7 separate regions of the Homo sapiens genome follow, and regions 1, 3, 4, 5, 6 and 7 are each reported to be linked to region 2. The links are microRNA targets in miRTarBase. Many come from high-throughput screens and were not tested one by one. Region 2 holds a microRNA gene; each other region holds the end of a gene's coding sequence.

Evidence for each region. Region 2 holds the annotated microRNA hsa-miR-6777-5p (ACGGGGAGUCAGGCAGUGGUGGA, at 2,047-2,069, shown strand). A microRNA usually pairs through its seed, bases 2 to 8, with sites in the 3' UTR of a target mRNA and lowers its output. Matches are read on the target gene's strand: a 7mer-m8 pairs with bases 2 to 8, a 7mer-A1 pairs with bases 2 to 7 and ends in A, and an 8mer does both.
Region 1: the mRNA of CASKIN1 is a reported target of hsa-miR-6777-5p. Seed matches in the 3' UTR shown: 7mer-m8 at 569-575 and 7mer-m8 at 757-763.
Region 3: miRTarBase lists YIPF2 as a target of hsa-miR-6777-5p. Seed matches in the 3' UTR shown: 7mer-m8 at 1,279-1,285.
Region 4: the mRNA of SIPA1 is a reported target of hsa-miR-6777-5p. The part of its 3' UTR that is shown has no 7-base or 8-base seed match.
Region 5: the mRNA of REG3A is a reported target of hsa-miR-6777-5p. Seed matches in the 3' UTR shown: 7mer-m8 at 3,183-3,189.
Region 6: miRTarBase lists NECTIN1 as a target of hsa-miR-6777-5p. Seed matches in the 3' UTR shown: 7mer-m8 at 623-629.
Region 7: miRTarBase lists SEC16A as a target of hsa-miR-6777-5p. Seed matches in the 3' UTR shown: 8mer at 882-889.

Annotation. Positions count from the first base shown.
Region 1 is chr16:2,175,017-2,179,080 of GRCh38, reverse strand. CASKIN1 (CASK interacting protein 1) reads left to right here. Exons shown (of 20, transcript NM_020764.4): 19 at 1-179; 20 at 435-1,901. The coding sequence ends at 531. TRAF7 (TNF receptor associated factor 7) reads right to left here. Exons shown (of 21, transcript NM_032271.3): 15 at 3,931-3,970; 16 at 3,664-3,780; 17 at 3,459-3,581; 18 at 3,128-3,247; 19 at 2,901-3,032; 20 at 2,697-2,816; 21 at 952-2,521. The coding sequence ends at 2,507. Among named protein-coding and RNA genes, the nearest start is that of CASKIN1, 20 kb to the left of the region's middle. RefSeq lists an enhancer at 752-1,253.
Region 2 is chr17:17,811,516-17,815,586 of GRCh38, reverse strand. It overlaps MIR6777 (microRNA 6777), which reads left to right and starts at 2,042; the gene lies at 2,042-2,107. It overlaps SREBF1 (sterol regulatory element binding transcription factor 1), which reads left to right. Exons shown (of 19, transcript NM_004176.5): 13 at 258-366; 14 at 643-752; 15 at 840-972; 16 at 1,177-1,342; 17 at 1,818-2,018; 18 at 2,108-2,219; 19 at 2,736-4,071. The coding sequence ends at 2,965. It overlaps MIR33B (microRNA 33b), which reads left to right and starts at 1,656; the gene lies at 1,656-1,751. RefSeq lists an enhancer at 2,272-2,830.
Region 3 is chr19:10,919,524-10,923,594 of GRCh38, reverse strand. YIPF2 (Yip1 domain family member 2) reads left to right here. Exons shown (of 10, transcript NM_001321439.2): 8 at 1-100; 9 at 188-323; 10 at 421-1,402. The coding sequence ends at 304. CARM1 (coactivator associated arginine methyltransferase 1) reads right to left here. Exons shown (of 16, transcript NM_199141.2): 9 at 3,915-4,000; 10 at 3,629-3,718; 11 at 3,022-3,159; 12 at 2,847-2,936; 13 at 2,649-2,761; 14 at 2,468-2,545; 15 at 2,152-2,220; 16 at 520-1,980. The coding sequence ends at 1,838. Among named protein-coding and RNA genes, the nearest start is that of YIPF2, 7.1 kb to the left of the region's middle. RefSeq lists a silencer at 2,384-2,563.
Region 4 is chr11:65,650,104-65,654,174 of GRCh38, reverse strand. SIPA1 (signal-induced proliferation-associated 1) reads right to left here. Exons shown (of 16, transcript NM_006747.4): 14 at 3,983-4,037; 15 at 3,696-3,774; 16 at 3,263-3,606. The coding sequence ends at 3,460. It overlaps RELA (RELA proto-oncogene, NF-kB subunit), which reads left to right. Exons shown (of 11, transcript NM_021975.4): 11 at 1-574. Among named protein-coding and RNA genes, the nearest start is that of MIR4489, 2.9 kb to the right of the region's middle. RefSeq lists enhancers at 1-94, 835-884, 895-1,374 and a silencer at 1,435-1,674.
Region 5 is chr2:79,153,895-79,157,965 of GRCh38, forward strand. REG3A (regenerating family member 3 alpha) reads right to left here. Exons shown (of 6, transcript NM_002580.3): 5 at 3,678-3,804; 6 at 3,112-3,399. The coding sequence ends at 3,332. Among named protein-coding and RNA genes, the nearest start is that of REG3A, 3.8 kb to the right of the region's middle.
Region 6 is chr11:119,661,325-119,665,324 of GRCh38, reverse strand. It overlaps NECTIN1 (nectin cell adhesion molecule 1), which reads left to right. Exons shown (of 6, transcript NM_002855.5): 6 at 28-4,000. The coding sequence ends at 578. Among named protein-coding and RNA genes, the nearest start is that of NECTIN1-AS1, 47 kb to the left of the region's middle. RefSeq lists enhancers at 1-190, 191-729.
Region 7 is chr9:136,438,519-136,442,589 of GRCh38, reverse strand. It overlaps SEC16A (SEC16 homolog A, endoplasmic reticulum export factor), which reads left to right. Exons shown (of 32, transcript NM_014866.2): 32 at 767-2,485. The coding sequence ends at 835. INPP5E (inositol polyphosphate-5-phosphatase E) reads left to right here and starts at 2,745. Exons shown (of 10, transcript NM_019892.6): 1 at 2,745-3,982. The coding sequence starts at 3,171. RefSeq lists silencers at 2,587-2,786, 2,837-3,016, 3,077-3,566 and enhancers at 2,639-3,272, 3,273-3,907, 3,857-3,966, 3,908-4,071.

The sequences.
Region 1 (4,064 bases), not on the chromosome of region 2:
AAGCCCCCGCGAGCCGCCGCCGCCGCCGCCGCCGCCGCCGCCGCGCCCCCCGCCCCGCCCGAAGGCGCCTCGCCAGGGGACAGCGCCCGGCAGAAACTGGAGGAGACAAGCGCGTGCCTGGCCGCGGCGCTGCAGGCGGTGGAGGAGAAGATCCGGCAGGAGGACGCGCAGGGCCCGCGGTAGGTGCGGGGCGGGGCCTGGCGGGCGGAGGGCGGGGCTCGGCAGAGATGGGCGGGGCTCGGCAGAGATGGGCGGGGCTCGGCAGAGATGGGCGGGGCTCGGCAGAGATGGGCGTGCCGTGAGCGGGGCTCCGCCGAGGTCGTCGTGCGGTAGGCGGAAGCCGACGGAGATGCGGGACGTGGGCGTGTCCTGGTCGGGGTGGGCGTGGCCAGACCCGCCCCGCCCACTCACGCCCCTTGCCCCGCGCCCCGCAGCGACTCGGCGGCGGAAAAGAGCACTGGCAGCATCCTGGACGACATCGGCAGCATGTTCGACGACCTGGCCGACCAGCTGGATGCCATGCTGGAGTGAACGCCGCCTGGCCGGGCCCTCCCGCGCCGCCCGGGCCCTCCCCGCACACTGACCTATACCTCAGGATGGGCGCGTCTGGGCGCGGCGCGAGCGGCCGGGCAGGGCCCTGCAGAAGCACAACTCCGGCCCCTGGACCCGGGCCGGGGCGCCCACCGGGGACCGCCTGGCCGGGGGCTCCAAGGGCTCTAGGCAGACCCTGCGCCCGCGGGTCCTCCCCACCTGCTGCTCCCCGTGCAATACCTGCTGGGCCTCCTGCCCGCGCGGGAGGGGAGGGCGCCCCGGGACCAGGGATGGGGCAGCGCACAGGCCCGGGCCCAGCACAGAACTGCCCATCGGGACGCCCGGCCAGCCGCTCGGGCGCAGCACAAGGGACAGGGGACCAAGGTCAGGGCCCCCCTGCCCCACCGCACCCCCAGAATATAAGCTATCAAGAGTATTAATTTATTGGGAATGAGCTGAGGCGGATTTCCCCAGAGAAACAAAAAGGTATAACTTTAACAAATATATATTTAAAGAAAGAAATATTATTGATTCTATAGAAAACCATTTACCAACTGAAAGGACACGAAGTCTAGCTCCGGACAAAAGCTGTTAGAGGCCCAGGCTGTCTGCCTGCGGTCCTTCCTCCGGCCAGAGTGGAGGCCCCAGGCTGCTAGCACAGGTGGAAGGCTGGGGCCCGGGGGCGGGTGCTCTGCCGGGGGCTCCTCCGTGCTTCTCTCCTAAGTTCTCTGCGCCCCAAGAACTCGAGGTTGTGCCTTGCTCTCGGCGGCCGTGTCCTCCTCCTGGCGTGGCTGCGTCCCAGGGCGCGGGTGGGTTTGGTGAATGTGGGTGTGTCAGCGTGGCAGCCACGTGGAAGCAGGGCATGTAGCAGGCCAGGCCACGGGCTTGCAGCTCCTCTGAGGGTGTGCCTGGCCCCCTCTCCAGGGGCTGTGCAGGCAGCCCATCCACCCCAGTGGAGTTCCCACGGACGCTTCTGCTCATGGTCCAAGGCTGTGTTGTGTGGTCATTCTCGCCCTCCCTTTTCCTCTCTCCTCCTGCCCCCTCCAAGAAGTACTGACTGGTCTCCTCTATCGTGTTTGCTGATCCACAGTGTTGGGCACAACTTTGACGTTTCTTAAAAAAAAAATTTAAAAAATGCCGAAAACCAGCGATTGTGGTGTGGGGCGGGTGGAGGCGGCTGGCGGAGGTGGCGTCCCGGCGTGCAGGGCCCCTTCCTGCTGTCTCACCCCGTGTTTCCCTGCGAGTGGACGTGCCCAGCTGTCCCCCCAGGCCTCTCCTCAGAGGGCGGCACAGGCTGGGCTCCAGCAGGTGGGCAGGGGAGGTCTGGGCAAGGCGCTGCCGTCGGCTGTCAATAAACAGCAGGAAACAGAGGTGCCTGGCTCACTTTTTGGGGGCACATGTGTTGGGGGAGATGGGACTGGAGGCCAGCAGCTTGGGTGTGACGAGTTGCCTCCTAGCAGGGAGGGGAGGCCCCGGAGTGGGCCGAAGTCCTGGGGTCCACCAAAGGAAACTGCCCCATGCCCCCCCACTCACAGCAGCCAGTGCCTGTGCACACCAACCTCAAGGCCACACACAGCCCCCTTGTCCCGAGGAGCTGTCCCCACTCACAGCCACAGTCTGTGGAGCATTTATTTCAACCAGGAGGTAACCAAATCTACATACAGTCTAAAAACGGTAGAAAAGGTGAGTAAAAAGGCCCTCGCTCCATCTAGGGTGGGGATGGAGGGTGGGGATGGAGGGTGGGCCGGGGCAAGCGTCGTACCTGGCACCCAGAGAGGGGCTGGGCAGCAAGGACAGTGCCGAGTAGAGGGAGGCTCGCCGAGCATGGGACGGGGAGGGCACTGCCCGGCTGCCAGAGCCTGTCCACCTATGCCCACGGGGCAGGCAGAAACCCCGAGACCACCCCATGTGGCCAGCCTGGCTCAGAAAGGTCCAGGGCTGGTTCAGGGGAAACCACAGCCTGGCCTGGATCCTGTTAGCAAGTCCAAACCTGCAGAGAAAGGGCTGCTTCACCAGGATGTCCTGCGGCCGGCTGCCCTGCCCCAGCCACACCTGCCACACGTACCTGCCCTCCACCACTTTGTGCTGGGGCTGCCAGCTCCTCGTCCCCACCCCCGCTCCATCCTGTGCAGCCCCTTTGAATGGCCTGAGCCACGGGCACTGACCTTCACAGTGCTATCCACAGCCCCTGAGAAGAGTCGGCCCCGGGACACAGCCAGCGCGGTGACACTGCCCTGGTGACGCAGCAGGGTCTGCGTGCAGATCATGTTGTCCATACTCCAGACCTGGGGGCACATGGGACGTGAGGGCCCGCCGGAGCTCAGCTGCCAGCCCTCTGAGCCTCCTGCCACCGCTGGGCCAGCACGCACCCTGAGGGACCGGTCGTAGGATGCACTGAAGACTTTGGTCTGGTCTGGCGTCGAGATGACCGCCAGGGCATACACGGTGCCCACGTGGCCCGTGAGGGTCCGCACCTGCTCCTTGGACTCAATGTCCCACACCTGGGAGGGGTGGGCACAGGCAGGTCAAAGACACTGAGCAAGGCGGGGGAGACGGGGCCACAGTCTGGCCTTGCACCCAGATGCCCAGGCCTTACGTGGATGAGGTTCTCGTAGGTGCCACAGACAATGTGGTGATTTGTCACAGCAATGGAGTAGACGCTGCCACCAGACGTCTGCAGGACGTGGATGCAGTCAAGGGTTCGGATGTCCCAGATCTATGAGTAATCGTGGGCCAGTTGGTCCCAGGCCAGGTGCTTCACCCCCAGGGCCCCCGCACCCCCAGGGCTTCAGCACTGCTGGGCAGCCCACCCACCCAGCCAGGGGATGTGCGAAGGTAGGAACAGGGCAGATGGAGCCCCAGGTGCTGGCCTGGGAAGTGCTGGTAGGAGGCAAGGCCCTGTGGCCACCAGGTGTGCCCAAGCGCACCTTGATTGTCTGGTAGGAGCCGCTGTACAGGTAGCTCTGGGCAGCCACCAGGGCCCGCACCCAGTGGTTGAGGCCTGTGAGCTCCTTCTTCAACTTCAGCTCAGTGCCCACGATGTCCCAGACCTGCAGGGATTGCTGCAACTGTGGGCTGGGCGGGCAAGGGACGCCTCAGTGACACACACGTAGGCACAGCCTCCACCCGTACCTTGATGGCCTTCAGGGAGCCGCTGAAGAGCACGTTGTGTGAGGAGACCAGCGTGCACACCGGGTTGTCATGGGCCCGGATGGTGTTCACCTTCTGCAGGTTCTGGATGTCCCACACCTGATTGGGGAAGGACCGGCAGCCTCAGGGCACCAAGCCCTGCCACCTGGAGTCTGGAGCCCAGACGGGGAGAAACACGTCCCTGGGGCACCTACAGACTGGGGCGGGCCTGGGCCGCCTCCTGCCCACCCGCCTGTAGGCCCCACTCACAATGATGGTGCAGTCTGCAGAGCCGCTGTAGAGTTTGCACCTGGGGAAGCAGAGACAATGTGTCAAGGTGGGAGAAGCTGTGTCCATGCTGACACCGCCCTGGCAGGGCCCGAGGTCCATGCCAGCCATCAGGA
Region 2 (4,071 bases):
ATGGCATCTTCTCAAGTCGGTTTTCCTTTGGAAGCAGTGTAGGGCAGGCCTCAGTGTTGTCTCCTGGCCAAGGCTGGTGCTGGTGATAGTTATGTCCACCCGCTTTCCCCTGTCCTTGGCAGGGGCTGCACCCAGGGGCATGCCGGCACTTCCCAGTGGCCCTAGGTGTGGCCCCAGCCCACCCAGGAAAAAGCCCTTAGCTTGGAGAGGAGGGTGGGGCCCTGCTCCCCACCCCACTCACCTCCTCCTCTCCACAGTGGACCCCCTGGCCCAGGTGACTCAGCTATTCCGGGAACATCTCTTAGAGCGAGCACTGAACTGTGTGACCCAGCCCAACCCCAGCCCTGGGTCAGCTGATGGGGACAAGTAAGTGTCGTTGTGCCCTCCTCCAGGCAAGGCCCCTCCGGCGGGATTCTGAGAATAGCTCTGGCCTCAACCCTGTGGAGAGAGCCCAGAGCTGGGCTACCGTGCGTGCCATGCACGCTTCATTCCTCTCTGAGTTTCCTCTCCCCACCAGCCTGTGGGAGGAGACAGTGGCACTTTGCAGAGCCAGGGGCCAGGCTGTACTCTGGAGGGCAGGTGGGGAGCACCCTCCTAGGACCCCTGCCATCTGTTCCGACAGCCAGCTCTCTCCTTCCACAGGGAATTCTCGGATGCCCTCGGGTACCTGCAGCTGCTGAACAGCTGTTCTGATGCTGCGGGGGCTCCTGCCTACAGCTTCTCCATCAGTTCCAGCATGGCCACCACCACCGGTGAGTCCCCGGCCCCTGTCCTGGCTCCCTTCTCAGCTCCCCCGTGCAGCGTGACTGAGGGTTCAGGGGACCCTCCCTCTTCTGCAGGCGTAGACCCGGTGGCCAAGTGGTGGGCCTCTCTGACAGCTGTGGTGATCCACTGGCTGCGGCGGGATGAGGAGGCGGCTGAGCGGCTGTGCCCGCTGGTGGAGCACCTGCCCCGGGTGCTGCAGGAGTCTGAGTGAGTGCACGGCAGGTTCCTCCTGCCTGGTCCCGGGCTCAGCCTTCCTCATCCCCTGGGCACTGTGCCTCACTCAGCCTTTGTTCTGTGCAGGAGGAGTCACCACCTTTTTTCCTCAGGGAACTCGAGCCAGGGAAGTGGGGGGCACTCAGCCAGGGCTTGTGGACTGGTCTGACTGGCACTCTTCTGCCCTGGTCCCAACAGGAGACCCCTGCCCAGGGCAGCTCTGCACTCCTTCAAGGCTGCCCGGGCCCTGCTGGGCTGTGCCAAGGCAGAGTCTGGTCCAGCCAGCCTGACCATCTGTGAGAAGGCCAGTGGGTACCTGCAGGACAGCCTGGCTACCACACCAGCCAGCAGCTCCATTGACAAGGTGAGGGGTGGGGTCAGGGGCCTGGCAGGGCTGGGGGATTCAGCTTTCCATTCCCTGGTTCCTCTCCCCAGCCCCCAGGGGCTGCAGAAGACCATGGGGTTAGCCCAAGCAGCACAGGATAGGGGGTCCAGCAGACCCTGCTTTTTGGCTAAGGCTTCTGTCCAGAGGAGAGGGGTTGCCCCTATCTGGCCTCAGTTTCCCCATCCCTGGGAGGAGGGGGGTGGATGGTGTGGTAGGATCCCTTTGGAGGCCCTGCATCAGGAGGGCTGGACAGCTGCTCCCGGGCCGGTGGCGGGTGTGGGGGCCGAGAGAGGCGGGCGGCCCCGCGGTGCATTGCTGTTGCATTGCACGTGTGTGAGGCGGGTGCAGTGCCTCGGCAGTGCAGCCCGGAGCCGGCCCCTGGCACCACGGGCCCCCATCCTGCCCCTCCCAGAGCTGGAGCCCTGGTGACCCCTGCCCTGCCTGCCACCCCCAGGCCGTGCAGCTGTTCCTGTGTGACCTGCTTCTTGTGGTGCGCACCAGCCTGTGGCGGCAGCAGCAGCCCCCGGCCCCGGCCCCAGCAGCCCAGGGCACCAGCAGCAGGCCCCAGGCTTCCGCCCTTGAGCTGCGTGGCTTCCAACGGGACCTGAGCAGCCTGAGGCGGCTGGCACAGAGCTTCCGGCCCGCCATGCGGAGGGTGAGTGCCCGATGGCCCTGTCCTCAAGACGGGGAGTCAGGCAGTGGTGGAGATGGAGAGCCCTGAGCCTCCACTCTCCTGGCCCCCAGGTGTTCCTACATGAGGCCACGGCCCGGCTGATGGCGGGGGCCAGCCCCACACGGACACACCAGCTCCTCGACCGCAGTCTGAGGCGGCGGGCAGGCCCCGGTGGCAAAGGAGGTGAGGGGGCAGCTGCTGACCAGGGATGTGCTGTCTGCTCAGCAGGGAAGGGCGCACATGGGATGTGATACCAAGGGAGGCTGTGTGTGTGTCAGACGGGACAGACAGGCCTGGCGCAGTGGCTCACACCTAGCACTTTGGGAGGCTCAGTTGGGAGGACAGCTTGAGCCCAGGAGTTGGAGGCCGCAGTGAGCCTGAGTGACAGGGAGAGTCCCTGTCTCAAAAAAAAAAAAAGACCAAGCATCTTCTTGATGGTTACCTGATGACAATTCCTTTCACAAGGAATCAGTGGGGTGACTGTCATTTGTGGGATACATGACTGCACGTGCGTGACTCAGTCTGTGGACTTTGTGTGTGGGCTGAGACTAGGGTGGGGAGAGGGGAACCCGCCAGGCCCCCGCCAGGTACCTGTGTGCCAGGTACAGGCGGCTGGTGCCGTGGCTTGTGTGTGGGCAGGGCTCCCGCGGGGGCGTGGCCAGCTTGAGACCCATCCCTGACACATCCTCGTGTGCGCAGGCGCGGTGGCGGAGCTGGAGCCGCGGCCCACGCGGCGGGAGCACGCGGAGGCCTTGCTGCTGGCCTCCTGCTACCTGCCCCCCGGCTTCCTGTCGGCGCCCGGGCAGCGCGTGGGCATGCTGGCTGAGGCGGCGCGCACACTCGAGAAGCTTGGCGATCGCCGGCTGCTGCACGACTGTCAGCAGATGCTCATGCGCCTGGGCGGTGGGACCACTGTCACTTCCAGCTAGACCCCGTGTCCCCGGCCTCAGCACCCCTGTCTCTAGCCACTTTGGTCCCGTGCAGCTTCTGTCCTGCGTCGAAGCTTTGAAGGCCGAAGGCAGTGCAAGAGACTCTGGCCTCCACAGTTCGACCTGCGGCTGCTGTGTGCCTTCGCGGTGGAAGGCCCGAGGGGCGCGATCTTGACCCTAAGACCGGCGGCCATGATGGTGCTGACCTCTGGTGGCCGATCGGGGCACTGCAGGGGCCGAGCCATTTTGGGGGGCCCCCCTCCTTGCTCTGCAGGCACCTTAGTGGCTTTTTTCCTCCTGTGTACAGGGAAGAGAGGGGTACATTTCCCTGTGCTGACGGAAGCCAACTTGGCTTTCCCGGACTGCAAGCAGGGCTCTGCCCCAGAGGCCTCTCTCTCCGTCGTGGGAGAGAGACGTGTACATAGTGTAGGTCAGCGTGCTTAGCCTCCTGACCTGAGGCTCCTGTGCTACTTTGCCTTTTGCAAACTTTATTTTCATAGATTGAGAAGTTTTGTACAGAGAATTAAAAATGAAATTATTTATAATCTGGGTTTTGTGTCTTCAGCTGATGGATGTGCTGACTAGTGAGAGTGCTTGGGCCCTCCCCCAGCACCTAGGGAAAGGCTTCCCCTCCCCCTCCGGCCACAAGGTACACAACTTTTAACTTAGCTCTTCCCGATGTTTGTTTGTTAGTGGGAGGAGTGGGGAGGGCTGGCTGTATGGCCTCCAGCCTACCTGTTCCCCCTGCTCCCAGGGCACATGGTTGGGCTGTGTCAACCCTTAGGGCCTCCATGGGGTCAGTTGTCCCTTCTCACCTCCCAGCTCTGTCCCCATCAGGTCCCTGGGTGGCACGGGAGGATGGACTGACTTCCAGGACCTGTTGTGTGACAGGAGCTACAGCTTGGGTCTCCCTGCAAGAAGTCTGGCACGTCTCACCTCCCCCATCCCGGCCCCTGGTCATCTCACAGCAAAGAAGCCTCCTCCCTCCCGACCTGCCGCCACACTGGAGAGGGGGCACAGGGGCGGGGGAGGTTTCCTGTTCTGTGAAAGGCCGACTCCCTGACTCCATTCATGCCCCCCCCCCCAGCCCCTCCCTTCATTCCCAT
Region 3 (4,071 bases), not on the chromosome of region 2:
CACCCTCTGGCCCGTGGTCCGTGAGGACACCAGGCTGGTGGCCACAGTGCTGCTGTCCGTGGTCGTGCTGCTCCACGCCCTCCTGGCCATGGGCTGTAAGGTACGGGTCTGGGGTGGCCACAGGTGGGGCCGAGGGGCTAGGGGGGCATGGGCTGGCCCTGCCTCTGACCCCAGGGGTCTTGTGCAGTTGTACTTCTTCCAGTCGCTGCCTCCGGAGAACGTGGCTCCTCCACCCCAAATCACATCTCTGCCCTCAAACATCGCGCTGTCCCCTACCTTGCCGCAGTCCCTGGCCCCCTCCTAGGAAGGCCCGGGTCCCACAGGTAAGGACTATTCCCAGCTGGGCTAAGGGGGCTGCCCTCCCACTCCCAGTCAAGGCGAGAGGTTCTGGGGCCACTCCCAGACAATTCTTTCTTTCAGGCAACACCTAAGTGGACCAACCCCTCTGCCTGTCCTGCCCCCCAGACGATGACTGAAGGCTCCTTTGACACCTTGAGATGATTCTGCTACTTTCCAGACTTTTCTTACAAAGCAAACACTTTTATTTTCTATGCAAAGGTGATTCAGAGAATTTATATAAAGGCGGGCGAGGGGCAGCCGAGCAGGGAGCTTTGGGACAGGGCTGGGGCCCCCATATCCCCCCCGGGCCACCTGCTTTCCCTCCTATGGCTCCCCTGGAACAGGAGGGAGAGCCAAGGGGGCGGCCCAGCCTGGACAGCGCCCGCTCCTGCCTGGGTGCACACACGGCGGGCCTGAGCTCCAGCATCTGAGTTTGGGGGTATGAGAAACAGGGGAGCAGAAGGAGAAGAAAACTGCCTGTGCTGCAACACGTTTCCTCATTTATTTTTTCTTTCTTTTTCTTTTTTTCTTTTTTTGGAGGGAGAGGTCCCTGCAAGGTCCCTTCCCGGGCAGGGGAGGGATGGAAATGCCGTCACAGTAGTAGGGACTGGAGCGTCTACAAGGATGGAGGGGAGCTACTCAGGCCTAACGTTAGCTACAAGGAAAAAGGACGCCTTCCGTGACAGATCCTTGAGGTGTCTGTGTCTGCCCCAAGTGGCCGGCAGTGGCCTTCCCTCCGGGCCCAAGGCCTGCAGCCACCTGCTCTAACTCTTGAGTGGGGGGGCGGGGGGGGACCTGCAGGGGCTCGGGGACAGGACAGCAGCAAGAGGCAGGGGCCGAGGACGGAGGCCTTCCCGACAGTGGGGTGGGTTGTACATTCAAGTGTGAGGTGAACCCTTTGGTGGGGAGGGGGCCCCTGAAGCCTCGGCGGGGCCACCCCTCCCCGCGGCGCCTCTGAGTCTAGGGAGAGGGGCTGCTGGCTCGGCCCGGCCGGCCTGGCTTCACAGAGGGTCTGCGGATTGACACTGGTTCTTTTCATAAAAAAATAAAATTAAAAAAAGCAGCATGTCACGTCCGTTGTGACCGAGGCCTGGTCGTCGAAGGGGAGGCCCCGCCTGGCCAGGCTACCTTCCCACTGGAGACAGGCAGGGGGACAGGTGCTAAGGGACCTGGCAGGCAGGGCTGGCAGGCCCCATGGCGCCTGTTCCAGCAGATGACAAGCCCAGGTCAGGGTAGAGCGGGCAGGAGGGGGGACGAGGGCTCCCACAACATGATTTTGTGTAAAATATGGCAGCGACACACGCTCAGGGCCGGGAGGTGGGGGTTAGGGTGGGGACGGCGGCAACATCGTGTAAAAAAGTGTCCCAGTTCCCATAGCAAAGAGAGCTGTGACCGGGTGTTCGAGCTTCTCCAGTACAAGGGGGAAAGCCGCCCGGCGGGGGCGGCGGGCAGGGACATCATTTGGTTTCCTGGTGCTGTCAGTCCGCGGGGCGGGCCCCTAGCTCCCGTAGTGCATGGTGTTGGTCGGGATGGACATGGGCGACGCCATGGAGATGGCGGGGCCGCCCATGGTGAACTGGCTGTTGACTGCATAGTGGGCACTCGTGCTGCCACCACCACTGCCCTGGGCGCCGGAGGACCCTGTGGAGCAGGCAATGGCAGTGAGGGGCTGCCCTGGCCCGCCCAGCCCCCAGGCAGAGTCACAGAGAGAGAGAAAGGGCAGGCAAGAGGGCAGGCGGGCGGCCGGACAGAGGATGGCGACTCACACGCTAGCTCGGCCCCCACGGGCCCTGCCCCCGCCACCCTCGTTACCTTGGACAATCCCCGTGCTCATTATGGAGCCCATCCGGGAGTGGGTGTGATTGACAATCCCCGTGTTGGCTGCGCAGCGAGAGGGAGGAAAGAAGGAAGGGAGACGGCGTCACCGCCCCCAGCCACCCAGCCCATGCACAGCAGCAGGCTGCAGAGCGAGGCAGAGAGGACGGAGAGCCTCGGCCGAGAGCCCCCAGGAAGAGGAAAAGGTGAAAGGACCAAGCAGAGGCCGACCCTGGTCACCACAGGCCCTTCCCGGCCCCTGGGCAGTCCTGGGCATGGCTCCCTGCTGCCCCTGGCCCTGGGGGACACTCACCTAAAGGAATCAGGTTGTTGTGGCCCACGCTGGAGCCACTGGCAATAACACTGCTCAAGTCATAGGCGGTCGGCATCCCTGTGTCCAGAGAGGGAGACGTCAGGGCTGGAGGCAGAGGGGCCAGGCCTGCGGCGAGGGCGGCCTCCCGGGTTGGCTGGGCATTGGGGTGGGCCCTGCTCACCTGCCACGGCCATCCCGCTGCTGAGGTTGTAGGTGCTGCCCGTGTTCCACATGTTTTCCGAGGGAGATGTGTAGTGGGAGCCGGGTGGGGGTGAGGGCGTTGTGCCCGTGTATCTATGGCAGAGACAGAGCCATGGGCAGGGGCAAGGGGGTTGCAGGGCCGGGGCGCCCCCCTGTGCAGGCAAGGGGCCCCTCCTACCTAAAGAAGGGGTTTTTCAGATCCAGGAGGTTACTGGACTTGGAGCCGGTCTGGTCCACCTGGGCCACAATACTGATGTCGTAGCTCTGTCTGCGGACAGGGTGCAGGCCGTGGCATGAGCTGCTGGGCAGATGGACCCCTGCCCACCACCACCAGCCCCAGGGAGCAGTCGCACCTTTTGTTGGCAATAAGCAGACATGTCCCTGAGAGCGTGTCCCCTGCCTTGGCGAACAGTGGTGACTGGAACAGGCACCGCACCTGGTACCAGTGGGTCAGGGGCTCTGTCGGGGCTGTGGACAGCCACACGGTCATTCTGTGGAGCAGGGACAGGCACATACTTGACTGGGCCGGCGCCACCACTGGAGCCACCACCTTGTATGCCTTGAGTCCTCCCCAAGCACCTGCCCCCTCTGCCAGGGACCCCTGGGACCCTGGAGCAGAGACAGGCTGGCCCCCAGGCAGTCCCAGACACAAACATGAGCAGGCATACATGTACACACGAGGGGCCCGCAACCACGAGATCCCTACTCACCCTGACATGTGCCAAGAGACAGACACAGACCCATGAGGGACAGACACTGGGAACACAGGACACACACACACATACACACACACACACACACACCCCACCCACAACAGTCTCTTGCTCCGAGACAGGCTCTCACTCCCATTGGAAGGGATGGTGGAACCTGGAGCCATGTTCCACCCCCCCAGCCAGGTTGCAGCTGCAGGAAGCCCTGGGAGTGGGGAGGAGGCAGCATGGGCTGCTCTGCGGCACTCACATGGAGCCGATGAAAGCAACGTCAAACCAGAAAGCCAGGCCGTGGACCAGCCCTGAATGCAGCATGTGGAATTTGAATGGGATTTCTATCCTGGAAGGCAAAGGGCAGTGGCTGCTGGGGAAGCCAGACAGGCGCTGCCGAGAGAGAAGAGGGGGTGCCAGGTGCAGAGGCCTGGGGCCCCCGCCCACCATCTGCCCTGGGACGGCAGGATGCCGGCGGGAGCCAGGGGTGGCCCTGACCTTCGGCCTGAGCCAGGCCTGGGAGGATGGAGTGTGGGTGCCAGTACCTGTGCAAATCTCCTTCTTTGGCTTCTAAGAAGTTCACCGTGTACTTGACAGACTTGGCCATCAGGATCCGGATGTCAAATGTGTCCTGGGAGAGACCACAGGTGTGACGTGGCATCTGACGCCAGGGCCAGCATGGGAGGGGAGAGCCCTGCCCCT
Region 4 (4,071 bases), not on the chromosome of region 2:
ACTTCTCTGGAAAGGGGGGAGCTGGGGAAACTCAAACTTTTCCCCTGTCCTGATGGTCAGCTCCCTTCTCTGTAGGGAACTCTGGGGTCCCCCATCCCCATCCTCCAGCTTCTGGTACTCTCCTAGAGACAGAAGCAGGCTGGAGGTAAGGCCTTTGAGCCCACAAAGCCTTATCAAGTGTCTTCCATCATGGATTCATTACAGCTTAATCAAAATAACGCCCCAGATACCAGCCCCTGTATGGCACTGGCATTGTCCCTGTGCCTAACACCAGCGTTTGAGGGGCTGGCCTTCCTGCCCTACAGAGGTCTCTGCCGGCTCTTTCCTTGCTCAACCATGGCTGAAGGAAACCAGTGCAACAGCACTGGCTCTCTCCAGGATCCAGAAGGGGTTTGGTCTGGGACTTCCTTGCTCTCCCTCTTCTCAAGTGCCTTAATAGTAGGGTAAGTTGTTAAGAGTGGGGGAGAGCAGGCTGGCAGCTCTCCAGTCAGGAGGCATAGTTTTTACTGAACAATCAAAGCACTTGGACTCTTGCTCTTTCTACTCTGAACTAATAAATCTGTTGCCAAGCTGGCTAGAGATCCGCTTTTTTTCAGCAAACACTGAGCACACATTTTGCTAGTCACATCAGGCCAGACATTGGTGGTAGAGAGCTGGGTGAATGCGTGCACTGTCCTCTGAGAGCTTGCAGTCTGAGAATGCCCTTGGAAACCCCGAGTTACCGTCCAGTGGATGAAAACGGGCAGCTAAGGCAAGAGTCCTAGCACACTGAGAGCCTAGTAGAGCCCGCTGGCTGTGGGGATGGAGCAGTTTCAGGAGTCTTCCAAGAGGCCCCATTAGCTCCAGGTCTTAGATCAGCTGAGAGTGGATGTCAAAGAGGGACTAGCCAGCGTCAGAGGTAAGAGAAACGATGTTCGAAAGATGTGATGGGGCCAAATTCCTTGGGTGGCCCAGGGAGTGTGTGCTTCTCTTGGGGAATGTGTGGTGCCAGGTAAAGATCTACCCGGCCCACCGATGCTTTGATACTCTGTTCTGGGAGGAACGGTGAAATCTTCAATCCACAGCCTCAGGAAGCCAAAACAAAGGCCCAGCCGCAGCCCACAAGGGCTACAGCTGGACGTACTTCCGCTTTGCCCCAGCGCAAGCGCAGCAGCAAAAAGCGCTGGCCGGCGTGGGCCCCCTTCTCGACTGCGCAGGCGCACAAGGAGCCCGCAGCAACCGGAGGCCGGGTCCAGCGTCTGGGGAAAATCCCCGCCGAGGCCGATGGCGTCTTCGTTTGGGCTTCGCACCGTCGCGGGAGGACAATAGCAGGGGAAAAGGAGTTATCGTCAGCGGGACGCGTCCCAAAATTCAGCGAGTCTCCTAGGAACAGAAAAGGCCCTGGGTGCAGGCTCCGACGGGCGGCGCCGGCGAGACGGCAGGCCAATTCCGTCGAGGAAGTGGCGTTTTCCACGGGGCTCCGGCTCCGGGGGGGCGGCCAGGGGCGGGGCTTGGAGCGAGGGCGGGCCTCGGCGGAACTCCCACGCGAGGGGCGGAGCCCGGGCTCGCGGTGGCCAGGTCAGGACCCGGGCGAAGCTGCCGGGGAGCGCCTGGGAGGCGGGGTCGGGGAGGAAGCGGGCGGGGTGAGAAGGCTCCTAACGCTGAGGAAGCCGACGGCTGAGCTGCGCAGGGACCCCGACCGGAGGTCCGCGACCCGAGGCCCAGAGGGAAACCAGGGAGCCAAGGCCCTGCAGCCCAGGCTGCGCCTCCCTCCTCTTGGCTTTCTCGGTCCCGCGACCTCCCGTGACCCACGAAGACCTCTCCTGGTTCTTCTCTCATTCGTGAATGACCCCATCATGCTCATGGCTCAGCAGCTCCAAGTCCTCGTATCCAACCCAGATCTCTCTCCCCTGCGCACCAGCCCCTGGACATCTCCACTCTGACGTCCTCGGGCCTCTCAAACTCATCCTGTTCCAAATGACCTCAGCCATCCCCAGCCTGCCTCTCCTTTTCCCTGTCAGCCCTGGCCCTGCCACCTTCCAAGGGCTCCAGCCGGAAACCTGGCCACTACCGTAGATGCCGCCTCTTCCCTTAGTAACTTGCGTCCAGTCCTTCCACGAGGTCCTGGAAAATCTGCCCACTTCTCCCCACTGTCACTGCTATCACTGAGTTTAAGTCACCACTAGACCTCCCACTGGACTGCGGCTACAGCCGCCTCCCTGCAGCCAAAGAGCTCTGACATCCAGATCTCACCCCATCAATCTCCCTTCAAACATCAACCACAAGACCAGATCCGAGTTTTCTGCAGACACACCCTCAGTGACCACAGCCTTCCACACTAGTCCACAACCAGGAAAAAGTGGCAGTCTTGGGAACTGCTAACCCAGGATCCCTAGTGCACCTTCACAACCCTTTCTGATCTGGCTTCTTTGACGCTGGGTTCCTGGGTGTGCCTTGGCTCTAGTCCAGCAGGCCTCAGCCAGACTGGTCCTACCAGGATACCTCTGACGTCTCTGCCTGGTGAACTCCTACCCAGCCTTCAAAACTCAGCCCTCATATTACCTCCTCCATGAAGCCTTCCTGATCCTCAGATGCTCTGTTTCTCCGAGCCTAGCTCATCCTGCCAGCACCTAAGTTAACAGACCCAGGGCCTAGGTCTCACCATGGAGCTTCAGCCAGCCTAGGGAAGGGACTGGAATAGGCATGAGATGCTGGGCAAGTCTGCCCTATCTGGGCCTCAGGTCCAGAAACCAAAGGATTTAGACAAAGTCCCAAGTTTGGACTTGATGATGCCACTTCGGGGAAAGGCCTGGCCTCGCGAGGAACAGAGAGGACCATAGGCTGGTGAGGAGGGAAGTGGGTCAAGGGCCCGTTTCCTCCAGGACATAGAAACAGCCCCAGTCAACTGAGGCGGAGATGCCACCGCCTCTGGAATTGGGCCCTGCAAGAAGTGGCCAGGTGGGTAGAGAGAGGACAAGGCCTGGGGGCTCAGTGGCTTCAGAGAGAAGAGTGAGGCCTGCACTGAGGCACAGGGCCTTGTGATGCACGGCCAGGGTAGCTGTGGGGTGTGGCCACCTGCTTCCCTGCAGAACCAAATAAACGTTATGGGAGAGAAGCCAAGCAGTGGCCTGGCCTCAGGGACCCCTCAGTGAGTGCCAGCCCATCTCTGAGCCAGTGTTCCCAGGGCCTGTCCTGACTGGTCCGAGGAGTTTGGCTGGGGCCTCTGGAGGCAAAACCCCTTGCCCTGCCCTGTCTTGGACACATGTTCAGACACAGACATCAGTGGCTTTTTTACTCCCTGAAGTCCTCTTTTCTCCACAGAATATTTACAAACAGGGAAGGGGTGGAGGCCACTTCCGCCACCAAATAAGGGGCTAGGGAGGGGGGCAGTGCTAAGACACGCCTCTGCGCAGGGAGAGTTCCTGAGGAGGGCCCAGTGTGACCACAGTGCCCTCAGGGGCCCAGGTGGTTCCAGACGGCTCAGGCCAGGTCGGCGGTGGGTGAGCCCAGCTGCTTGGAGGCCAGGAGGAGGCGTGTGGCTGCACTCTCAGACTCCGCCTGCAGCCGCCGGTTGTTGTGTCTCAGGCTCCGCACCTCCTCCTCCAGGGCCGCCCTGTCCGCCTTCTCCTGGGGTGCCGGGGAGACAGGAGTCAGAGCCGCCAGCCCCTTTCCTGGGGCAGCCCTGTGACTCCCCCCAAGCTCAGCCCACCCCTCACCTTCTGCAGGTCCTCCTGCAGCTTCCTGAGCATGGACTCCAAGTGAGAGACCTTCTCTGAGAGGTTCCCAGGCTCTGGCCTGAAGACATGGGGGTCAAGACTCAGCAGGACCAAGGCAGGGGGCAGTGCACCAGCTGACTCCCAGCCCCAGCTAATGAGAGGGGCCCCGCTGGTCTTCTAGGCATATGTGGCAGCAGAGCCCAGGACAGAGCTCCACCCCAGCAGACAGGCACGAAGGGGGGGTCATGTGGGCAGGTAAAGCGGCTGTGGGGAGTTGGGGAGCTTACTCAGCATCAGATTTTGGAGTTCCCTTAGGGTCTCCACTCTCTGGGATGGGCTGTCCTGTGGGGACAAAGGGATCAGGTGGGCAGGTCAG
Region 5 (4,071 bases), not on the chromosome of region 2:
AATTCTGCTGTTAATACTTGTGATTGTATTCTGAAATTTTTGAAATGAGTTTTTCACCTCTATCAGATCAGTTTGGTTCTTTCTTAAAATGACCATTTCATCTTTCATTTTCTGTATCGTTTTATTGTATAGAATCCTGGAAATGGATTTTCACTTTTGCCTGAAGCTCAATAATCTTGGTTCCTATCCATATTCCAAGATCTATTTCTGTCATTTCAGATATTTCAGACTGGTTAGGAACCATTGCTGGATAACTAGTGTAATTGTTTGGAGGTAAAAATAGACGCTGGCTTTTGGAGTTGCCAGAGTTCTTGCACTGGTTCTTTCTCATCTGTGTGGGCTGGCGTTCCTTTAATCTTTGAAGTTGCTGTTTTTTGGATGGATTGTGTGTGTGTGTGTGTGTGTGTGTGTGTGTGTGTGTTTATCCTTTTTGATGCCCTTGGGGGTTTGATTGTGGTATAAGGTGGGCTCAGTTGACTCACTTCATTTCTGGAAGATGTCAGTGGGCCAAGGTTCAGCTCAGCATTCCCCAATTCTGGAATGCTATTATCAGGCCCCTAGCTTTGTTCTCTCACCCCTCGAAGTTAGGAACCTGCTGTGCTGGGGGTCCAAAGGTGTTCCTGGATTGCTGGCCACAACACTCCAGTAAGTGGCAGTGACCACAGTACTCTGTCAGGGTGATAGCAGTGGGATCTGTGCTCATGCCACGGCAGTGGCAGCATGGCTGGGTGCATGCTCGTTGGCTGGGGTGAGGCACTGACAGGCATGGGGATGCCAAACCCCATGACCCATTATTTTTTATATATGTTTTCTGCCCATTTTCTGCCTCTGCTCCTTCTAGAAAACCCATAATATATATATTGGCTCAGTTGATCATGTACCATAGTTTCCTTAAGCTTTATTTTCTCTTTTTGTTTCTTTTTTCTTTTTGTTTCTCTGACTGGATAATTTCAAATGACTTGTCTCAAACTCACTGACTTTTTCTGCTGCTTGATCAAGTCTGCTGTTGAAATTCTCCATGCATTTCTTCAGTTCAGCCACTATGTGTTTTTTTTTAACTTTAAAACAAATCTCTTTCTTGACCTTCTGATTTTGTTCACATATTGTTTTTCTGATTTCATTTAGTTGTCTATCTGTATTCTCTTGTAGCTCACTGAGTTTCTTTTAGACAATTGCTTTAAATTATTTGTTGAGCAGTTTGTAAAATTCTTTCCCCTTAAGGTCAGTTACTAGTCCTTTATTTTGTTCTGTTGGTAATATCATATTTCCTTGATTGTTTATGATACTTGTGGTCATGTGTCTTTGGTGTTTGACTTTTTGAACAAGTAGTCACTTATTCCAGTTTTTACAGACTGGCTTTAGCAGACAAAGCCCTTCACCAGTCAGTCATCCAGAGATTCTGGGCAGGCCATCTGGCTTGGTCTTTGGGCAGGCTTGCTGCTGGCATCCTCAAGTGGACCTATTGACTTGGTATACCAGGGTAGGCAGTCACTTCATGAGGGCAGGCCCGAAGCCTCTAATCACAGGAGCCAGACTAAATCCTACTTCCTGGAGACCAATCTGGCTCTAAAGCAGGCCTTGAACCCATGTCTTCAGGGGTTAGCCAGGCACTAGGACAGATGTAGTATCTGAGTCTCTAGGACAGGTCTGGAGTTTGAGTCTGTGCATACTGGGCTGGTACCTGAAACTACAGGGGCTGGTATGGAGCCAGGGTTAGTGGGGGTGGCCTGTAGCCTGGGACCATGAATGTCAACTTGCCTCTGGGGTAAGTCTGGAGACTGGATTCATGGGGCTAAGGCTGGAGCCTGAGTCGGGGGGGCTGGCCTGGTGCTAAGGTCTACTGTAATGAAGCTTGATCCTGGGTCTGCTGGAGTATGAGGCCAGACTAGTACCGAGTCCACAGAGCCTCGCCTGGAACTGGGAAAATCCAGAACTTGTGTCTGTGGGGGCTGGCCTAGTGACAGAGGCCACAGAGGCTGGCCTAGCATCAGGGCTTTGTGCTCAGATGGACCTAAAGGCTTGGGGAGGGTTTGGGATTTGACAGGACCGTATCCTGCGACTGTGAGTGTCAGTCTGGAGCTGGGGTCTGCAAGTGCTGGCCTGAAGTTGTAGCTGTGGGAGCTATCCTGGAGCTGTGGTGGGTCTGAAGGGCAGGTCCACATGGGCAGGCCTGATGTCTAGGATTTCAGGGGTCACCCTGGAGTCTGTGGCTGCAAGTGCTAGCTTGTCCTTGAGGTGGGCTTAGAGTCTTTGTCAGTGGGTGCTGGCCTGTGGTCTGGAGCTATGGGGAAAAGCATGATGCTGTGTGTGTCTAGAGCCTGCATCTTCTGGGGCAAGACTGGAGGCTGCAGTCATGGGGGCTGACCTGGAGCCTGGGGTCACAGAGCCTGGGGCCACAGAGCCTGGCCTGGCATCAAGGCAGCCTGGAGTCTAAGTCCAAGGGTGTCTGCCTGGAGTCAGAGGCCACTGGGTCTTACTGAGGCAAACCTAGTGTTAGGGTCCATGGAAAACTCAAGTGCTTATTTCACTCTCTTTCCCCAAGTTTAGGGAATGTCTCTCCATGCTGTGCTTACTGAGATTGATGGAGGGGTGATATAAATAATGTAAAAGTCTTCTTTCTACCCTCTTCGATGCATCCTTTCTTATTTTTTGCAACATTCAGATGCTTTAATCACTCACTTGGGATTGTTAGCTCTTGTGAAGGTATTTCCATTTTAATGGGTAGTAGTTCAAATGAATGTTTCTGTGAAGGTTCAAGAGCTGGAAAGTCCTATCTACCATCCTGCTGATGCCATTCTCTGAGAAGTACTATTCTAAGCACCATCAGAGCCTCCTAAATCTGTTCATGTCACACTGTCAGGTTTGGGCTACGGGAATGGGAGGGCAGTAAGTACGCGGGAGAGAAATGTCCTCATCTCTCCACAACACAAATCCTACATGAGCAGGACCCACACCCTCATCATAACACACTGGTAGGGATGCACACTTCATCATTTTCCCTAGAGGCCTGGGTGAATAGGGAAGAAGCAAGACCCATAAAGTTTCCTCCACTCAAACACTTTGTCCTTCTCAGAGTATGGCTATGACACTGGCATATACAAGACAAACAAGTGCAGACTAAAAATTTTATTGCTCTTTAAAGCCTTAGGCCGTATGACAAAATGAAGAGACTGAAATGACAGCGGGGAGGAAGAAACAGAAGAAAGATAAGAATGAGGTGGTCAGGTTGGGGGAATTAAGCGAATATTCTCTTCCAGGGTGAGTCCTCACACTGGTCTCATGCCCATGATGAGTTGCACACCAAACACAGGCTGCTGACTTCCCTCCTGCACTAGTCAGTGAACTTGCAGACATAGGGTAACCTCACATTACAGTTATAATCTTTCCACCTCAGAAATGCTGGAGAGACAGAAGACATAAATGGAATGGGGCTGAGGAAGCTTGTGAATCCAATGAAGGGGCATCCCAGGTTTTAGCCTAGAAGTTAAAGCCTCTCCCTCACCTTCACCAGTGTCCCAATCCAGGAGAGAGATTCAAAGAAAGTGGAGAAGAGAGGAGATAAGAGAAGACACACTAACATTGTATTTTCTAGCTCAGGAAGATTTCCTGAAGGTCAGACCCAGGAATGGGGGATGAGATGGAAAACACTGGGAAGAGGCAGCTCCTCTGTTTCTTACCTGTGCTTCTCGACAGGCTCGCACAGTGGCCGGGGCTTGAGATGGTGGAGGGATTTCTCTCCCATGCAAAGTAATTCATCACATCACTGCTACTCCACTCCCAACCTTCTCCATTGGGCTCGGTGCCCTGTAGAGTAGAGGAGGTAGCCAGGTGAAGGGAATGGCCATTGCAGCTCTTCTTGCATGGCCCCTTAGCTGCAACACCTGATTTGCTCCCCAGCATGAGGAAAGTTGGTCTGCTATTCCAGATGCTGCCGGTGAGTAGGAAACTCTTCCTTGACTCCTCATTGCTATTGGAAAATTCCAGCCAATAAACATAAGACCTTTGGAACAACTCAAGGTAATATATTATTTGCAGAACAATAATTGATGTAGCATTTGTGATTAGCTTGTG
Region 6 (4,000 bases), not on the chromosome of region 2:
TCCCCTCCATCTCTTTTCCTCACCCAGAATTCCCCTACACCCCGTCTCCTCCCGAACATGGGCGGCGCGCCGGGCCGGTGCCCACGGCCATCATTGGGGGCGTGGCGGGGAGCATCCTGCTGGTGTTGATTGTGGTCGGCGGGATCGTGGTCGCCCTGCGTCGGCGCCGGCACACCTTCAAGGGTGACTACAGCACCAAGAAGCACGTGTATGGCAACGGCTACAGCAAGGCAGGCATCCCCCAGCACCACCCACCAATGGCACAGAACCTGCAGTACCCCGACGACTCAGACGACGAGAAGAAGGCCGGCCCACTGGGTGGAAGCAGCTATGAGGAGGAGGAGGAGGAGGAGGAGGGCGGTGGAGGGGGCGAGCGCAAGGTGGGCGGCCCCCACCCCAAATATGACGAGGACGCCAAGCGGCCCTACTTCACCGTGGATGAGGCCGAGGCCCGTCAGGACGGCTACGGGGACCGGACTCTGGGCTACCAGTACGACCCTGAGCAGCTGGACTTGGCTGAGAACATGGTTTCTCAGAACGACGGGTCTTTCATTTCCAAGAAGGAGTGGTACGTGTAGCCCCCCTTCCAGAGCCTCTGTCTGTGACCGCTCCTCCCCAGCCCCTCCCCGCACGCCCCCTGCCCACCCCCCACCTCCCACTCCAGGAGCTGAACAGAGACTTGCCCAGCTGCCCAAAGCCAGCCCCGAACTCCTGGGGGGCCAGGGGAGCCCAGGGCAGCCACGACTTGGCTTTGTGTTTTATTTCCTCCCTCTCCTCCGCCCTTCCCCATGGTGTTGTGTTCGACTGTGGCTTTAGTGTTACTGTATCTTCCCTTTACGGGCCCCACCTGCCTGCCCTCTGTGTAGGGAGCCCTGTTCTCGTCTTGTGTACCTGGGCATCCCTCCAGGGTTTGGGGAGCCAGCCTCCCCCGCCCCCCTACACTGGAATTTGTTTGTGTTTCTTCACTGGGGGTGGAGGGCTCAAGGGGCTCTAAGAGGGAAAAGCTCCCCACACCCCCAGATGCTGCTCCTCCTCCCGGCTAGAGGGAACCCAACACCCACCAGTGAAATCTGATGCAGCTGGGAGTTTGGACCTTGGGTCTAGACAGCTGGTGCGCCCAAGAGGTAGGGGGAGGGGTGCGGCTTCTCCCCAGTTCCCAGGGAGTCTTGTTTGTTAAGCGGGGCCTTGGGCAGTGTTTTCCTGCTGAGGGTGGTTTTACATTTTTTTTCCTCATTGGCCCACAGAGAGTGGAGTTGGCCTAGCTCTGACGCGTCCCCTCTTTATCCCCAATGTGCCCCCTCCATTAGGGGCTCCAGGTGGGCTCCAGCCCACACTTGCTCTCTGCCTCTGCTGACACGTGCACACACACACACATGCACACACTGCTCCTCTCTGCCTGCTTTCCCCTGGAGTCCCATGCCCTGCCCCATCCAGACACTGCCCAAGGCCCACCCGTCTATTTCCACCTCATTCCCCCTTTAAGCTGAGAATGGGGTCTGCCTATAGAAGCTTCCAGAGACAGCTGAGACTGGGTCCCCGGTGCCTCCACCCTAGGATCTCAGGCCTGCCCCAAACTGCTTCTTACAGCGTGGAGGTTTCTCTGATTTCTCCCTTATCTAGCAACACTTGGTTCTTTTGGCTAGTCAGGGCTGGGATCCCAGGGGGATCCACCTGCAGGAGTCAGAGGTAAAGAAGCATCCACACGGAGGGTAGTGGGGAAGGAAGCCCACATGGCAGAAGCTCTGCAAACACAGTCCGAGGGACTGAGGAGTCCATACAATGCCTCACACACAAAGGCCATTGTCAAAGCCTCGGGCCTGGCAGAAAGTGAGGGGGGTGGGGCCGCTAGGCCACCTCCTGCTCAGCCACCCCTGGTCCTCATTCTGGGATGAGGGGAGGGCCTAGGAGAAGCCCTCCCTTTCAGTGCAGATTCCCTTCTTGAATGGGACATTGAGTTCCTATCAGCCACCCCAGACTGGGTCTTCCCATGTATATAATGGAGGAAGACCCCTCCCAGCCCTCTCAGTCCCCCAGCTCAAAGTGCCTCAGTTCCTCCATCTGCTCCCAGATCCCCTGGCACTCTAGACAGGCATGCCCATGGGAAGGACCCTGGGATGGAGAGGCAGGCTTCGCGGCCCTTCATGCCTGCCCACTGGGATTCCAGTTAACTCACCCCAGGGTGTCAGGGGCTCTGCAGGATGGCAAGTGTTGGGGAGGAGGGAGGCAGACCACTCTGTGCCCCACGGGCACTGACCCACCCTGCCATAGGCTTCCTAAGGGAGCCCCCCAACCCCTCCCCTCCCCTCCCTGGTGCTGCTATTGAACCCCCTGCCAGCTCCATTTCTGCCCTGGCAACCCTGGGCCCAGCAGGTGGGTCGTCGTTGTCTGGCCCTCACTGCCCTGGCCCCAGCCCAGGCTGCCCAGTAGCCACGTAGCAGAAGTCTGAAGCCATGCCAGCCCTGGTGCGGCTCTCCCCTCTACACATTTGGGGTACTGGATAGGGTGAAGTTAGGGGAGAAAATTGTGGAGTCTTTCCAGCCACAGGGCAGAGGGAGGTGGAGGAGCTGGGCTGCTTTTCCCAGCAGTATTAGTGTCCCCCAGGACAGGGGACCTTTTCCACATTACATCACTGCCCCATCCCACCTTACAACACTCTGGCCCCTCTGCTTGGTCCCCTTTTCCCCCAGGCAGGAGGCAATCCCAGGGGCCTGCCTGATAGAGGCATTTCCTGTCCCTGTCTCCTCCTGCATCTCCTTTATCCTGCACTGCCACCCTCTATTCCCCATTCTGTGTTGGACTTTGAAGGCCCCAAGCCCAGCCAAAGCACTGAGTTCCCCCTTAAGACACCTCCACACCCTCCCCACAAGCAAAGCACAAATTTTGGGGTCCATGTAGCATGGGCCACGTAGGAGGCTCCTGACTTGCCAGGGGCCCAGCCTCAGCATACCCACCGAGCAGCTGCCAGCCTGGGCTGAGGGTGGGCATGAGGCAGGAGTCAGCACTTGGACCTAGGGATGTGAGGTTTTCTGTGCCCCAAGTTTGTGGGAAGGTGGGCACTACTGCTGGGCCCACAGACACAGCCAGCTGGCAAAAGGGAGGTCTAGCCCAGCAGAGAGATGAGGACATTTTGCTTCTCCTTCATGCCCACAGCATGAGCTGAGCTTCTGCTTTGCTGGAAATGAAATAAACTTGGTATGAATTGTGCCAAGGCCTCCCCAGTTGTCATCCTGCCTCTTGTTGCCCTCCCTGTCCTTGCCCCCCACCCCACACCCATGCCCCTGTTTCCTTACAGATTTTGATATTGTTCTAATGTGTAATAGAACCAGCCGAGTCCCCTTTTATCAGAAGGGTCTGAAAAGCAGCAGCACAGAGTAGGTGAACACAGGCCTGCAAGTGCGACCACCTCAGACCCAGTACGTGTGCCCACAGTGGACACACTCACACCTCCAACACACCCACGCGCAGGCATGTGTACACGCATGTACACACGCATGCATGCACAGCCAGATGGCCACTCAGCACAGATGTGGCAGAGGGAATGGTCTGATCCTGCTGAAAGCCATTAAGGAGAAACGAATTTCCCAGTGCCCGGGCTGCAAGAGAGCCTTATAGGGGCCCTGTTTCCTGGGCATGCGCTTCCTCTGCCAGCCAACCCCCACTTGCCCAAGTCACTGGTGCAATAACTTTTCTGCCTTCCTCAGAGCAGAGAAATTGGGAATTGTGTTAGGTGGGTGTGGGCAGCTCTGCTGAGCCAAGCAGACACGGATGTCCCCTCTTCTGGGAGGAGGGTAGTGCTCCCAGGCCTCAGGAGTCCAGACAGAGACCCCCAAAGCCTGACTGCCAACAGAAACCCTCTCCTAGTGAGGGGCAGGTGGGTGTGCCCCAGGTCCCCACACCCACAGGGAGGCTTCACACACTGCCCAGTACCGGGGATGCCAGGAGGCAGGCCCCTCTGCTGCTGCCACTGCTGCCAACACTGCCCAGCTTGTGAGGCCAGGAG
Region 7 (4,071 bases), not on the chromosome of region 2:
TCGTCTCTCCTCCCCTCTCCCTTGCCTGTGGAGTATAGACTGGCTGCCAGTGTAGGGGAGCTGAGCGGGGTCCAAGGTCTGGGGCCTCTTGGGATTCAGCCCCATTGTCACCCCAGCCTGCCCTCACAGCCTCACACACTCTTGACTGCAGGCTTCCTGGGCTGGGGCCCAGCACTCCTGCCCTGGTCCTCTACAAACGAGGCCGAGGCTCCCAGGACCACTGCCCCCAAGCTGGCCCCTGGCTGTCACCTGCTTTTCAGCATCCAGACTAGTCGATTTTGGTATTGTCCTGCTCCCTTTACCATGTGGTTAGTGCCTTTACAAAAATTCCTTGGCTTTCCCCTCCATGAGGCTTTGCGAGGGAGCAAGAGTGGATGCCTGCATTGGCCAGCTGTCTGCAACTGAGGTCCCCGCGTCCCATGCAGTAGGCCAGGCCTGGCCACCACTTGTCCCTGGACTCTGGACAGCCAGGCTGGCTCTGCAGAGCAGCTCCAGGTCTCATGGCCCTGATGAAACCACGGCACCTCCTGGCCACCCTCACAGTAAACATTGATGGTTAAGGATACAGTGCTTTCAAGGGAGCCCAGGACTTGGCACTGACTTGTCGGTTTCCAGAGGCTTTTGGAAACAAAAACGAAGCCTTCAGCTTGTCAGCGCCAATGGCCCGTGTGGTTCATTATGTGGACCAGCCCCTGCCACGCTGCAGCCGAGCACTGCTCACCCTGGGGGCAGGCATGCAGAGGTCATGCTGTTGATTTCATTCCAGGCCTGCGCCACCTCCGGGAGCTCAAGGCTAGGGAGGATTGGCCAGAGGAAGCACCTGGTGCTGAACTAGGCTTGCCCTGCTGTGAACTTGCACTTGGAGCCCTGACGCTGCTGTTCTCCCCGAAGAACCCGACCGACCTCCGCGATCTCCGTCCCGCCCCCAGGGAGACACAGCAGTGACTCAGAGCTGGTCGCACACTGTGCCTCCCTCCTCACCGCCCATCGTAATGAATTATTTTGAAAATTAATTCCACCATCCTTTCAGATTCTGGATGGAAAGACTGAATCTTTGACTCAGAATTGTTTGCCGAAAAGAATGATGTGACTTTCTTAGTCATTTAGGATGATTTAAGGATATAGTATTCCTGGTCATTTAAGAATGTTCATTCATTGAAGCCGGAGCTGTCTCTGCCACAGGAGAGCCACATGGTCGGTAGTAACCAGGGCCTCTCCAAGCCCAGCTGTGAGTCACTGCCCAGTGAGTCCCGCGCTTCCTTTAAGGTGCTGGGAGCAAAGAGAGGGTGACTGAGGCAGACCCCAACCCCTGCTCTGCACCATCTGGGCCCTCGCCGTGTTTGAACCTGGCTGAATGAGTGGAGGGCGCTGTGTTCTCAATCAGCGCCTCCGAGGAGCCGTGGGGTTCCTTCGGCATTAGTTCACGGTTTTTGAGAGAGGCCTTAGTTACTGCAGTGAATTTCTTTCCTGTTGCAAAGACGCTTCCAGCCTCACTTTACTTTCTGTGGCCTGATGAGGACCATGGGTGATTTTGTGTACCCAAAGCGCTGGGGACTGCCCACCGTGTGGCCCAGTCACTGGGAAGGAGCCCCAGAGAGCCGGCTGTCTGACATGATGGCTCAGGGTGGTCATCCAGGTTGAAAACTGACCGTGTGATGTTTGATTTGGGCTTCATTTCGTGTGTAGGAGCACGGTTAGACTCACTGTTAAGGAAGCTGGATGCACTTCTCTAAAAGGCTGCACTTTCCGTGAGCACTTTTCGTGGTACAATCCACATGACCCACTTTCTCCCCTGGGGGACGTTGGTTCAGAGGTTGGTAGCACTTGGGGAGAGTATCTTAACACAGTTTCTTGACAGCAGCTCTGGAACTTAGTATTTCTGCCCCGAGTTTTGCCACACTGAGACTTTGAGTAGCTCCTGGTGGACTCAACCCTGTTCAACTCAGAGACGGGCCTCCTCTCACTGATGCAAAGCTTTAAGGCTTCTCTGACTGTTCTGAAACTCTTCGTATTCTTGTCAAGTCTAAAGAGACTGAAGAAAAGATTTAAATACTAATAAAAATCAGTAGATAATTTCTGTAGGTTCTGCTGGAGGAATACAAACTGTTTGGTGTTTTAAATTTAAGTGTAGAAATTGTAGAATGTGGAATTAGCACAGATCCTTCCTGGCTTTCTGTTTCACTTGATCATTTAGCCCAGACCACCCAGGATGTTTTCCAAAATGTTCCACAGGCGTGTCCCGCTGGATCCATTTGTCCTTGTCACTTGGAGAAAGGCCAGTCCCTGTGACGGGGCAGCCCTCTCTGTCCCTCGGTCAGCTCGTGTGAATCCTGGGACCTCTTCCGGTCGGCTCTGCCCGCTGTTCTGGGGTCGACTGCCACGACTTTTGATTCAAGAAGCTTCCTCCAGGCGGGAGCGGCTATTTTTCCTAAATGAGAATTGTTACATTGCAAATTGTTGAATAAAATATTTTGCGCTCCTTCAAGCACCTTCACCTGTGGTTCCCTTTGGTTTGCTGGAAGCGAGTGAGTGCAGGTGTCCGCAGGCCTCGGCGCTGTCCTGGACCGCACCCAGGTCCTCTCCGGGGACCTGCACCTGCCTCGCTGGGACCTGCCGGACTGCGGGGCTGCCGGGTTGGGAGGGGCGTGGGAGACCCGTCCGGGTCCGGTGCGGCGCAGTCCTCCGGCCGCCAGGGGCCGCTGTGGGCGGGGCCGGGGCGCGGGGCGGGGACCGGGCGCGGCCCCGCGGCGGCGGTTGCTGGGTCCCGGCCGGGCTGACTCCGCTTCTGGGCGGCCGGGCCTCCGCGAGTACCGGGTCGACTTCGGAGTCTGCGAGCCCAGCCAGGGGTGCCCGCTTCCCACCCCTCTCCCCGAGCGGCGTCCCCGTCGGGGTCGAACCTCCCCCGCGACAGGCGCCCAGCCGCCTGTTCCCCCAGGCCTTGCCTGCGGACCGCCCTGGGAACGGCGTCTGGGAGCCCCGAGGGGCTGGCGGGACTCGGGGCCCGGGCCATGCGGCAGCCGCCCCCGCCCCTCCGCGACCATCCCCGGCCCAAGCGGGAGCCGCAGCGGCGTTTCTGCTCCTCGCTGCGCCGGCGACCCCGGACCCGGCACCCGTGACCCCTCGCGCTGCCTGCGGCCTCGCGCCGAGGCCTGCCCCGGGAGAGACCGTCCATGCCGTCCAAGGCGGAGAATCTGCGGCCCTCCGAGCCGGCCCCGCAGCCGCCGGAAGGGAGGACGCTCCAAGGACAGCTTCCCGGCGCTCCGCCGGCCCAGCGCGCGGGGTCCCCACCCGATGCTCCGGGCTCCGAGAGCCCCGCGCTTGCCTGCAGCACTCCGGCCACGCCCAGCGGCGAGGACCCGCCAGCCCGAGCAGCACCCATCGCCCCGCGGCCCCCCGCCAGGCCTCGACTGGAGCGAGCCCTGTCCCTGGACGACAAGGGCTGGAGGAGGAGGCGTTTTCGAGGCAGCCAGGAGGACCTGGAAGCCCGGAATGGGACCAGTCCCTCCAGGGGCTCAGTGCAGAGCGAGGGCCCCGGGGCCCCCGCCCACAGCTGCTCCCCGCCCTGCCTGAGCACCTCCTTGCAGGAAATCCCCAAGTCCCGCGGGGTCCTGAGCAGTGAGAGAGGGAGCCCGTCCTCGGGGGGTAACCCTCTCTCTGGGGTGGCCAGCAGCTCCCCGAACCTCCCGCACAGAGACGCCGCCGTGGCGGGGAGCTCGCCCAGGCTGCCCAGCCTGCTGCCCCCGCGCCCACCGCCTGCCCTGAGCCTGGACATCGCCTCCGACTCCCTGAGGACAGCAAACAAGGTCGACTCGGATCTTGCAGACTACAAGCTCCGCGCGCAGCCGCTCCTGGTGCGGGCCCACAGCAGCCTGGGCCCCGGCCGGCCGCGGAGCCCCCTGGCCTGCGACGACTGTTCCCTTCGCTCGGCCAAATCCTCCTTCAGCCTCCTGGCGCCCATCCGCAGCAAGGACGTCCGCAGCAGGTAGGGAGGGCCTGGCGGGTGCAGCGCCCGCGCCGCCTTCGTTGTAGTGTTCAGGCTGCTGGAACCTCGTGAGACCGTTCCCATCAGCA